Regions from separate parts of the Homo sapiens genome. Here region 1 is linked to region 2. Evidence: fine-mapped expression QTL. A gene starts in region 2. The other region holds a variant in brackets. All regions are shown on one strand. Distances are between the middles of the regions.

Evidence for each region. PIP is the estimated chance that this variant, and not a neighbour inherited with it, causes the effect.
Region 1: its variant is fine-mapped to the expression of APBB1IP in whole blood (TOPMed, PIP above 0.99).

What each region holds. Positions count from the first base shown.
Region 1 is chr10:26,415,318-26,420,702 of GRCh38, reverse strand. No RefSeq gene overlaps it. Among named protein-coding and RNA genes, the nearest start is that of APBB1IP, 20 kb to the left of the region's middle. The variant A/T (reference allele first, on the strand shown) is at 2,386.
Region 2 is chr10:26,436,026-26,441,410 of GRCh38, reverse strand. APBB1IP (amyloid beta precursor protein binding family B member 1 interacting protein) reads right to left here and starts at 3,070. Exons shown (of 15, transcript NM_019043.4): 1 at 2,956-3,070; 2 at 2,558-2,759. RefSeq lists enhancers at 2,737-2,816, 3,377-3,506, 3,224-3,753.

The sequences.
Region 1 (5,385 bases), 21 kb after region 2:
AAAAGCAGAAGATTTAAGAAATGCTAATGTTACATGTTTTAAAAGTTTAGAACACAAGTTTTATTAGAGGGCTTTTTCATCCAACTTAAAGTACCTTTATTGTCTTCTTTGCTAGAACTCTATGACTTCTGGTAACAGAGGCCAAAACATACAAACTCCTCAGACTATCTGGTGAAACTCCATCAGGAATAGGAGAGTTTCTACCAGTTCCAATTTAAATAATTTTCTGTATGTGTGTATGTCAAGATTGTAATAGTTTGATTAAAGTAAGAAAGAAATGTGCATGAGAATGTATTGCAATGCTGCAATCTTAACCCTGTTTCATATTTGATTTTTATTTACTTATTTGTTTATTTTTTAATTGAGATGGGGGTCTCACTAAGCTGCCTGAGCTGTTCTTGAATGCCTGGACTCAAACAATCCTCCTGCCTCAGCCTCCTGAGTATTAGGTCTGTTCACTAATTTAGAACCACAGATTAATATTTGATAGCTTTTAATGGGCACAGAGTCATTTTTAAATGTTGGCCACAAACACTGTCCAGTTGAATATAAGGTAAATATAAACTAGTTCCCTAAGGCACTTCACGTTATTGGCAGGTCTTCTTCAATAAAAGTGTTTAAACAAGAAATGGGAAAAGGATTCCCTATTTAATAAATGATGCTGGGAAACTGGCTAACCATACGTAGAAAGCTGAAACTGGATCCCTTACTTACACCTTACACTAAAATTAATTCAGGATGGATTAAAGACTTAAATGTTAGACCTAAAACCATAAAAACCCTAGAAGAAAACCTAGGCATTACCATTCAGGACATAGGCATGGGCAAGGACTTCATGTCTAAAACACCAAAAGCAATGGCAACAAAAGCCAAAATTGACAAATTGGATCTAATTAAACTAAAGAGCTTCTGCACAGCAAAAGAAACTACCATCAGAGTGAACAGGCAACCTACAGAATGGGAAAAAATTTTTGCAATCTACTCATCTGACAAAGGGCTAATATCCAGAATCTACAAAGAACTCAAACAAATTTACAAGAAAAAAACAAACTACCTCATCAAAAAGTGGGTGAAGGATATGAACAGACACTTCTCAAAAGAAGACATTTATGCAGCCAAAAGATACATGAAAAAATGCTCATCATCACTGGCCATCAGAGAAATGCAAATCAAAACCACAATGAGATATCATCTCACACCAGTTAGAATGGTGATCATTAAAAAGTCAGGAAACAACAGGTGCTGGAGAGGATGTGGAGAAATAGGAACACTTTTACACTGTTGGTGGGACTGTAAACTAGTTCAGCCATTGTGGAAGTCAGTGTGGCGATTCCTCAGGGATCTAGAACTAGAAATACCATTTGACCCAGCCATCCCATTACTGGGTGTATATCCAAAGGATTATAAATCATGCTGCTATAAAGACACATGACACGTATGGTTATTGCGGCACTATTCACAATAGCAAAGACTTGGAACCAACGCAAATGTCCAACAATGATAGACTGGATTAAGAAAATGTGGCACATATACAGCATGGAATACTATGCAGCCATAAAAAATGATGAGTTCATGTCCTTTGTAGGGACATGGATGAAGCTGGAAACCATCATTCTCAGCAAACTATCACAAGGACAAAAAGCCAAACACCGCATGTTCTCACTCATAGGTGGGAATTGAACAATGAGAACACTTGGACACGGGAAGGGGAACATCACACACTGGGGCCTGTCGTGGGGGAGGGGGAAGGGAGGAGGAATAACATTAGGAGGTATACCTAATGTAAATGACGAGTTAATAGGTGCAGCACACCAACATGGCACATGTATACATATGTAACAAACCTGCATGTTGTGCACATGTACCCTAAAACTTAAAGTATAATAAAAAAATTATGATTTTTCATTACCTTAAACTATTTTTCTTATCTTTCTTAGAAATGAAAGAAAACTAGTTTGAGAAAATTCCTGCATTTTAAAATAAATCTCTATTTCAGCCAGACGCGGTGGCTCACGCCTATAATCCCAGTACTTTGGGAGGCTGAGGTGGGTGGATCACCTAAGGTCAGGAGTTCAAGACCCACCTGGCCAAAATGGCAAAACCCCATCTCTACTGAAAATACAAAAATTAGCTGGACTTAGTGGCACACGGTTGTAATCCTAGCTACTGGGGAGGCTGAGGCAGGAGAATTGCTTGAACCCAGAAGGCAGAGGTTGCAGTGAGCTGAGATCGCACCACTGCACTCCAGCCTGGATAACAGAGTGAGGCTCCATCTGAAAAAATAAATAAATAAATAAATAAATAAAATGAAATAAATTTCTATTTTAATGAGAGGCTTGTAGAAGAAGATATTAGCAGATTTGTATTGTAAATTTATGACATAAT[A/T]GTGTGGCTCTGCAAATAACAGCAAATATTGTTGATTATTATTTATTTTCCTTCTGTGAACATTAACTTTGTGAATTATGATGTTTTTCATTTTTACAATAAACATTTTTCTTAATAGAAAATTTTTAGTTTCTTTATTTACATACTGAGAAATGCATCTTTTTTAAGTGTACAATTTACTGAAGGTTTTTCCCCTTTGATCATGTTTTTAATTTTGATGAAGTTCAATTTATCCATTTGTTTCTTTTATGATTGTTTTTTGTGTGTGTCCTACCTATAAAATCTTTGCTGGCTCCAGGATCACAAAGATTTTCTTTTGCTTTCTTCTAGAAGTTTTATAGTTTTAGGTATAGTTTAAATTTATGCCTAAGATCAATCCTGAATTAATTTTTATGAGTTGTGTGAGGTAGGGGTTGAGATTCAATCTATTTTCATGCATTTATTCTGTTGTCCAAGCATCATTTGTTGAGCGGATTTTCCTGGTTTAGCACTGCTGTGGCTTGGGTGAGTTGGTCTAATTCTAGAGTTCAGTGATAGAAAGCCCAGCTGGCTCTCATACAGAGCTACACACCCTGTCTCTAGTCTAGCTTTTATGATTAAGAAGGTGATATTTTGGCTTCCAATAATCATTCACTTGTCTTTTGTTCAATATATTCAGAACTCAGGTGGGGAAGAGAGATGCTATTCACAACCCCTTCCATGAAGAGGTCTAGGTTCAAAGCCAGAGGCTAACTAGTTATAGGTCCAGGCTCTATGATATTTTTGATGGCTTCTTCCTCCTTGGGTTATTAAGTTACGTACAGTCCACAGCTCTAAGTAGTGTTTGGTTGAAGCACTTTTTTCCCCTTCATCTTCTTTTCATTGGAAAATGTCCTTGTTAACAGATAAATTTTTAAAATGATCAACTACAATTCTCATACAAATATAAAATCCATGCTTGTCAAATATTTTATTTAATTCATTAACTAATGAGGGAACCGGTAAGATGTTACAGTTGTTTCAAAGAAGCACATGTTTATATGCATAAAGAAATGTTGAAATGAATTTACAAACAGATTTAAAAAACTGGTCTATCTCCAATACCATAATCCATTACATTTCACCAGACACAAGTCAATTGCACTTTTGTGAGCAAGAATCATTGGCACTATTACCGGTTTTTCAGAATTTACTGTCTTTGAGAGTTGCAAAGCCTCTGGAGATAACCAGGATGGTAAAGCTAGACAGGACACCCACTAATCTTTTTTATCCATTTCGAAGTCTTTTGTAATTTTTCCTGACACTTTCTATCTTCACCCAGTTTCACATGGTGAGCCTAGTCCTGTTCTCTGCTACAAGAAGTCTAGCCAGCTACAGTTACATTTACTTGGTTTTATCTAATTGCCTTCTTGACCTTTCCACTTGAGTATTTAAGAGGTATGACATGGATAAAACTGAACTTTTGATTTTTTTCTTAAGCCAATTCTACCCCTAGTTTTTCTCATCTCAGTAAAAGGCATCTCTTCAGTCCAAAACCCATGAACCATCATTGGTTATTTATTCTTCCTCATCTAATGAATTAGCATGTCTTTATTATATATCCTTTTCTTTGTCTCTATCCTCACTTACTTAGACCAAGCCCCATGAACTATTCCTCGGGCCACTTCAATAACTTCTCAGCTGGTCTTTTTCCTTACCCTCTCACTCTCAATCCATTTTCCACACAGTAGGATGCATTAGTTTTTAAAAATATAGACAAGTAACATTTACCAATGCTTTTGTAGAGACAAGGTCCCCTATGTTGCCCAGGCAGATCTCAAACTCCTGGGCTCAAGCCATCTTCCCACCTCAGCCTCCCAAAGTGCTGCGATGAGAGGATTAAGTCACCACGCTTGGCAAATAAATCATTTTAAAACAGTCCTATGCTGGGCTATTATTGCTGCTATCTTTCTTTTATAAATGAGAAACATGACATGTGGATTTTAAATAATATGCCTACACCCACCCATGTAATAAATGGTAGAAATGATATTTAAATCTAGGTCGTCTGATTCTGGAGCTTGGACTATTAACCACTGTATGTCCTGCCTCCCTAAACAAGTCAGATTTGTCATTCCTTGCTTACATTAAATTTAAACTTGCTCTTGTACTTGGAATAAAACTTGGACTCCTTGCCAGACTTACAAGATCTGACGCCAACCCCACCTCTCCAACCTCATCTCGTTGCTCTCTCTCCCCATAGCAAACCAAATTCAAGCCATACTGGCATTTTCTTCTCTCTTCCTGAGTATTTATTTATGTAATGACAAGTCTTGCTCTGTTACCCACGCTGGAGTGCAGGGGTGCCATTGTAGCTCACTGCAGCCTCAAACTCCTGACCTCAAGGGATCCTCCCGCCTTGGCCTCCCAGAGTGCTTCGATTACAGGCATGAGCCCCCACATCTGGTCTTTTCCTGAATATTGAGAACCGCTTTGCTGCTTAGAATGCACACCTCCTGGCTCTTTGCTGAGTGGTGTCTCTGACCTTTGCAGTCTCAGCTTAAAGAAGTCCTCTTGCTCCTGTTGGGTGAGCTCCCTGAAGACACCGGGGCATAGCTGTAGTAGGGGTTAGTGGGTGTGTGGGAGGTAGAGAGCGGAGGGAACGTAGGGAGTCTTCATTTCTCCAAGCACATTGTTCTAAATTGGTTCTTCCTTTTCTAAGAGAGGTAGTGTGAAGTAGTCAGTTTAAACACCCAGATCAGACTGTGAAACATGAGAAGAAAGAGGTCAGAAGATCACTTTATGGTCTTACCAGCACCTGGACTGTAAAATGACACCAATCATAATGCCTTCCTGCCCTCATCACAAGGTTGGTGTGCAGATGGCAACATATTCAAGATGGCTTTGACAGCTGTAAACAGGAACAGATGTGAGTAACTTCAGGCCAATGTGACCTTCACACTCTAGTGGTGCCTTCACTTGTGAATTGTGCCCAGGACCAGGCAGTGAGGCCAACATGCTTAGAGAAGACCTCGATGAGCA
Region 2 (5,385 bases):
GGTGTAATGGCATTCCTTCATGCGGCTAGTTCTCTCTTTTCAAGAGAAATCTAATGATTACTGTTCCAGATATCTAGCAGTTTTCTCTAAAAGTCATGTTTCTCACGATAATTAAAAGTGTAATATGTATTTTAAAATCCCCATGCAACCAGTGTAGAAATCTTACACTTTAAAATCTGGCATTTATTATGTACATGAATTTATAATAAATGCTTAAGCTTTAAGTGACTTGCCTCTTAGATGACAGCAGTGACATAAAACACACACATTCATTTTCATACTGAGAAGATACCTGTTGTGTTAATAAAAATTGTTCTGTTTTGAGGCAAGCATTCCTAAGATCACCGTAGTCTCCATAATATAAACTCATGGGGTCCTATAAAATTGTAAAGATTGTGGTCCAATAGGCTATGGAACGCAGACAATTTATTATAAGATTTGTGGACTCACTAAAATGTTTTAGGCATAAAAATAATTAAAATAAAATTGAAGAGAATTAGAAGAAAATGAAAATAATAATGCTCTTTGGAAGTAAGATGGCTTAAAGAAAATTCAAAGTGACATATCAAACAGACATTTATGGCAATGAACTTTATAAGTAGCTCATTCTAATAATAATATGGAACTATTTAAAACTTTGATTGATGAGTGAAAAAAGGCAAATCAATAGTGGATAACTGGTGAACATTCTTAGGATATAAAAATACAAAAAATGTAATAAATACTATAAAACCTAGTATTGTGTTTAAGATTTAAAGTAATGCCATAAAGTAATTCATATTACAAAGTTATATTTCTTGAGAAATAGCAATTTAAAGATTTCAAAATATAATATTGACCTGTTCAAGTTTGGGCTGTTTCTTATCTCAGTTTTCAAATAAGATGGAAATTTGCCTTTTTACATATAGGCCAGATATTGACTGCGCTTTTACAGGAACTTCTCAGAAACAAAAGACCTCAAAGATATTGATATTTCAGAATGTAATCTGTTATGGTTATGATTATTTTCTCCATTTTTAAAAAATTTGTGATCAGCAATTCTAATGTTGATATAATGTTGCCAGTATTCCAGTTGGGACCAATTCAAAGAATTATAGCAACTCCTCAATTGCTATTTTAAGAACAGACATAATGTAGCCCAATCATCTCACTTTACTGACGTTATCTGAAGTCCAGGGAGAAGTTATGCAAGTTAATCAATATCATCCTTATCTAGATGGGGGAGATATAAGAGCCAGAACCCAGGTCTCCCAAGTGCTGAGAAAAAACCCAAATATTAGTAATTATTAATAGTTTAAGGATTAATAGTTTAAGGACACACATTATTAATAGTTTAAGGATGAAGTTAAATTTCTTAGACCTTTCACAACACACGTTGAGCAGACAGGAAATACCACTAGAAGACTTTATAAAGTATTTCTCAGCAGATCCTTGCTAATTTCGCCAGCCAGCATCATCGTCCTGGCCCATGTGCCACCCATTATTCCAGTGAGGCCAGAGGGAAAATCGCTGCTCTAGGTTTATGAAAAAGGACAAAGTTTTCCTTTCTGAAATTTCTCTCTGGAGACCCAGATTTTAAAATGAATAGTAGCTAGTACCGGCACCTTTGTTTAAACCACGTTATGCCACCAGAAAAAAACATCTGGGGGCATAATAAACTCACGGGCCCTTTTCTTTTGTTACTTTCCTCTAGTACTCCGTCTCGTCAAGGATCACATTAAAAGTTCTTTTGAACCGCTATGCCCTGAGTGTCTAGGAAACACATTTCACGTTCCACAGGGGTATGAACTAAGAAATACCTTAGCAGGAAAGTAAGAGGTACACCGGGCTAGGTCTTTGGTGGAACACCTGCGCAGAGGTTCTTGGAGACATTAGGACACCCTAGTTAGTTTCCTCCATTCTGTAAAAGGCCCTCTGGATATTCATTTCAAGCCAAATTATGAAACTTGTGCCTGGTGTCCAAATCTATCTTTATGGTATTTTAAAATGAAAATGAGAATATTCGGGGGAAAAAGTTATTTTTAAAAAGAGGAAAGAGTTGTCCAAAAGTTTTAGAGGAAGGAAACACTCTAAGATGCATCAGACTGCGAGCCACACTCAAATTCTCACACGGCTGGCATTTAATCCACATCTAATCTTGGCCCCTCAAGAATCCCTCCAGGTTCCGGGAGACTGGGGCTCCCGGACCTGCTGACCTGCTGACCTGCTGACCTGCTGGACGTGCAAGGGTTCATAGCAGTTCCCCGTTTGACCTTGCAGCAATTTCCTGGGCAGGAAATCTGTCAAATCTGTTGCAATAGCTCGGGAAAAAGCAAACCCGAACCCCAAACCCTCACACCCCCACCCTCGCGAGCCGGGTCCAGAGTGGAGATCAGCGGAGGGGACCCTGGGGACCCGCTGCGCTCGAGGGCCACGCCTGGGGGCACGCGTTCACGAGGCCAGATCCTGGAGCTGCCCCCGGCGTCGGACCCGACGGGCTTGACAAACGGGTTCCTGACAGCCCCGAGGGGCCCGTGCTGGCGCTCCCAGGGCTCCCGGGACTGGGAGCGCCACTTACCTCGACTGCTCTGCGGGGCGCTGCGGGGCGCGGGAAGGCGGCGAGACTCCGGCCGGGAAAGCGACGCGCGGTGCAGACTGCCGCACCCGGGCTCCAGGTCGCTGCCCCGGGGAGGAAGTGCTGTCAGCCCTGCCCTTCCCACGCAGCGCGCAGACGTGTGGCGCTATCCGAGCTGCTTTGCTCCGAGGTGCAAGGAAGGCCCCTGGTTAGAGACAGTGGGACAGACAAACATATGCGTAAAGGACTCCGAGTTAGGGGCTGCTTTCTCCAACTCATCGAGTCTGCGCCTGATTTTCTCTCCCCCATCCCACCCCTACTACACAACCACCTTGAAGGGATTTTTATTTTATTTTATTTTATTTTATTTTAATTCTGGGAAACGTTGCGCCTCCCCCTACCTGTGCCGCGCGCGCCCTTCTCTCAGGAGCGTCTCCTGGCGAATGGAACCATTTTGCAGCCTCGACGCAAGAGGGACTAAGGGATTGGGGCCTAGTGATGGTTCCACCAAAGACTGAGAGGCCGCTTTATGTTGCAACGGTCTCCCAAAGTGTTTACTTCAGCACTTTCTGGGCTTCCTCTTTTGGGCCGGTTGTGCAAGGCTTCCCGGCCGCCTGCAGCCCGCCCTCAGGGGACGCGGTGCAGGGCTGGACTGGCAACACGCGCGTCCCGGCCGGAGTTCAGCTGTCTCTCGGGTGGGGGTGGAGGAAGGGCGCGCTGGGCGGAGGCCCTTTCTCAACCATCAGGTTGGTAACCTCACCCTCCTCCCTCCCCACGTTTAACCACGCTCAGTTGGCCGGCCAGGGTGTAGAGGAATAGCACTGTCTTCATTGCTCGTAGAAATCCAAAATGGTCTGAACCCCGTGGAAGAGAATTGAGCAATATCTATTTAACTTATGTATGGATTCGCCTTTTGACCCCGTCATCCCACTTCCAGGAGTGTGTTACGAAGATCTGCTGATGAAAATAAGTAATGCACACGGCAGAGGGCATTCATGGACTCACTATTTGCAACAGCATAGGACTGGCTGGAAATAGCACCTGTCAGTTGGGAGTGGAGTTTCCTGAGAGAAAGTCGCTGGGGAGGTCTGAAAATACAGAAGTTAAAATCAGTTATGATTTGTAAATGCGGTTGAATAACCCTCCCCTTCTCCTCTACAGCTGTGTCTTCAAAGGCTTATATGTCAGGGAAGGTGGTGAAGACATAAAGACAGAAATTAGGTGCATGTGTTAATTAGGCAATTTCAAATAGTTCTGTCATTTATTTAATGAGAAACTATTCGTAAGCACCAACACTTCTAAGAACAATGAAAATAGTTAGAGGAAACAATTTCTGCTCTCATGCATGGTGCATTCTAGTTGGTAGAAAGCAGACAATAAACAAATTAATATTTAACATGTCAAGGAATGTAACTAGTTTTGAAGGAAGTTAAAAGGTGAGGGATAGAGAGTGATGGGCATGGGGATGGGGTTGCTGTATTAATTAGGGTAAATAAACGATAAATAAATAGAAAATATATTTTCTCCTCATGATTTTCTTAATAACAGTTTCTTTTCTCTAGCTTTCTTTATTGTAAAAATACAGTATTTATCTAAATACATATAACATAATATGTGTTAATTGACTGTTTAATATTATCAGTAAGGCTTCTGGTCAACAGTAGGCTATTCGTGGTTAAGTTTTGGGGGAGTCAAAAGACATACATGGATTTTCAATTGTGCAGCAGTTTGGTACTCCTGAAATCTGGCATTGTTCTGTTACAGTAGGTAGCTAGTCAGGCATGAGCAGGGCAGGAGAGGGCTCCTCCCACCCCCTACCAGGAATGTCAGGTGACCATCAGGTGATGATCAAGCAGTTGTTATCAGCCTTACTGATAACATAGTCGATTAACTCATATTATTTTATATATATTAAATACTGTATTTTTATAATAAAGTAAGCCAGAGAAAAGAAACTGTTATTAATAAAATCATAAGGAAGAGAAAATGTATTTTTCATTTATTTATTTATTATTTATTTATCCTAATTTTTTTTAATATAGCACCAGGGAAAGGCAGTCTCCCAATAGACAGAAACACCTGAAACTGGTATTTCTGTCTGATAAGTGACACTTGAGCTAGATCTAAATGGCATGAGAGATTAATCCACACTGGGTTTTTAGATGGGAATATTCCAGGCAAAAGGAACAGCACATTCAAAGACCCTGAGTTAGGAGAGCACTTAAGATATTGGAAAAACACCAAGGAAATTAGTACGGCTGAGCAGAGTGAGATGGGAGGGACAGACATGAGATGGGATCAAAAGGAAATGGTGCCCAGATTGTGTGCTATTTGGGAGCTGTGGAAGAGAATTTGATGTGAGTGAGATGGAAAGCCAGTGGAAGGTTCTGAGCAGAGTTGTAAGTGCTACATAAAATATAAAATCAAACAATGAGAGTGACTTTCTTGGGGCAGGGAAAGTGGTCAAGGATCACCTCTTTACAAAGTAATGAGAAGGGGCAGCCATTCAGAAACTTGGGAAAGGATTCCAAGAGAAGGAAGAACAAGAAGAGGGGCTGAGATAGGAACATAGAAAGTTCAAAAGAAGGCAGGCCAGTGTGCCTGGAATGTTCTGAAAGAGTAGGGCAGCAATAGTGGATGGGGACAGAGAGGTAAGCAGGAACCAGAACAAGCAGGACCTTGTAGCCAGCATTGAGGACTTTAGGTTTTATTCTAATTGCAATGGGGGACTATTGGAATGTATTTAGCAACTGAGTGCATGATTTGACTTAAGCGATAAGCCATCCTGCCAGTTGGTGATTGTTCAGAAAATCAATTGATTGAAGCAAGAG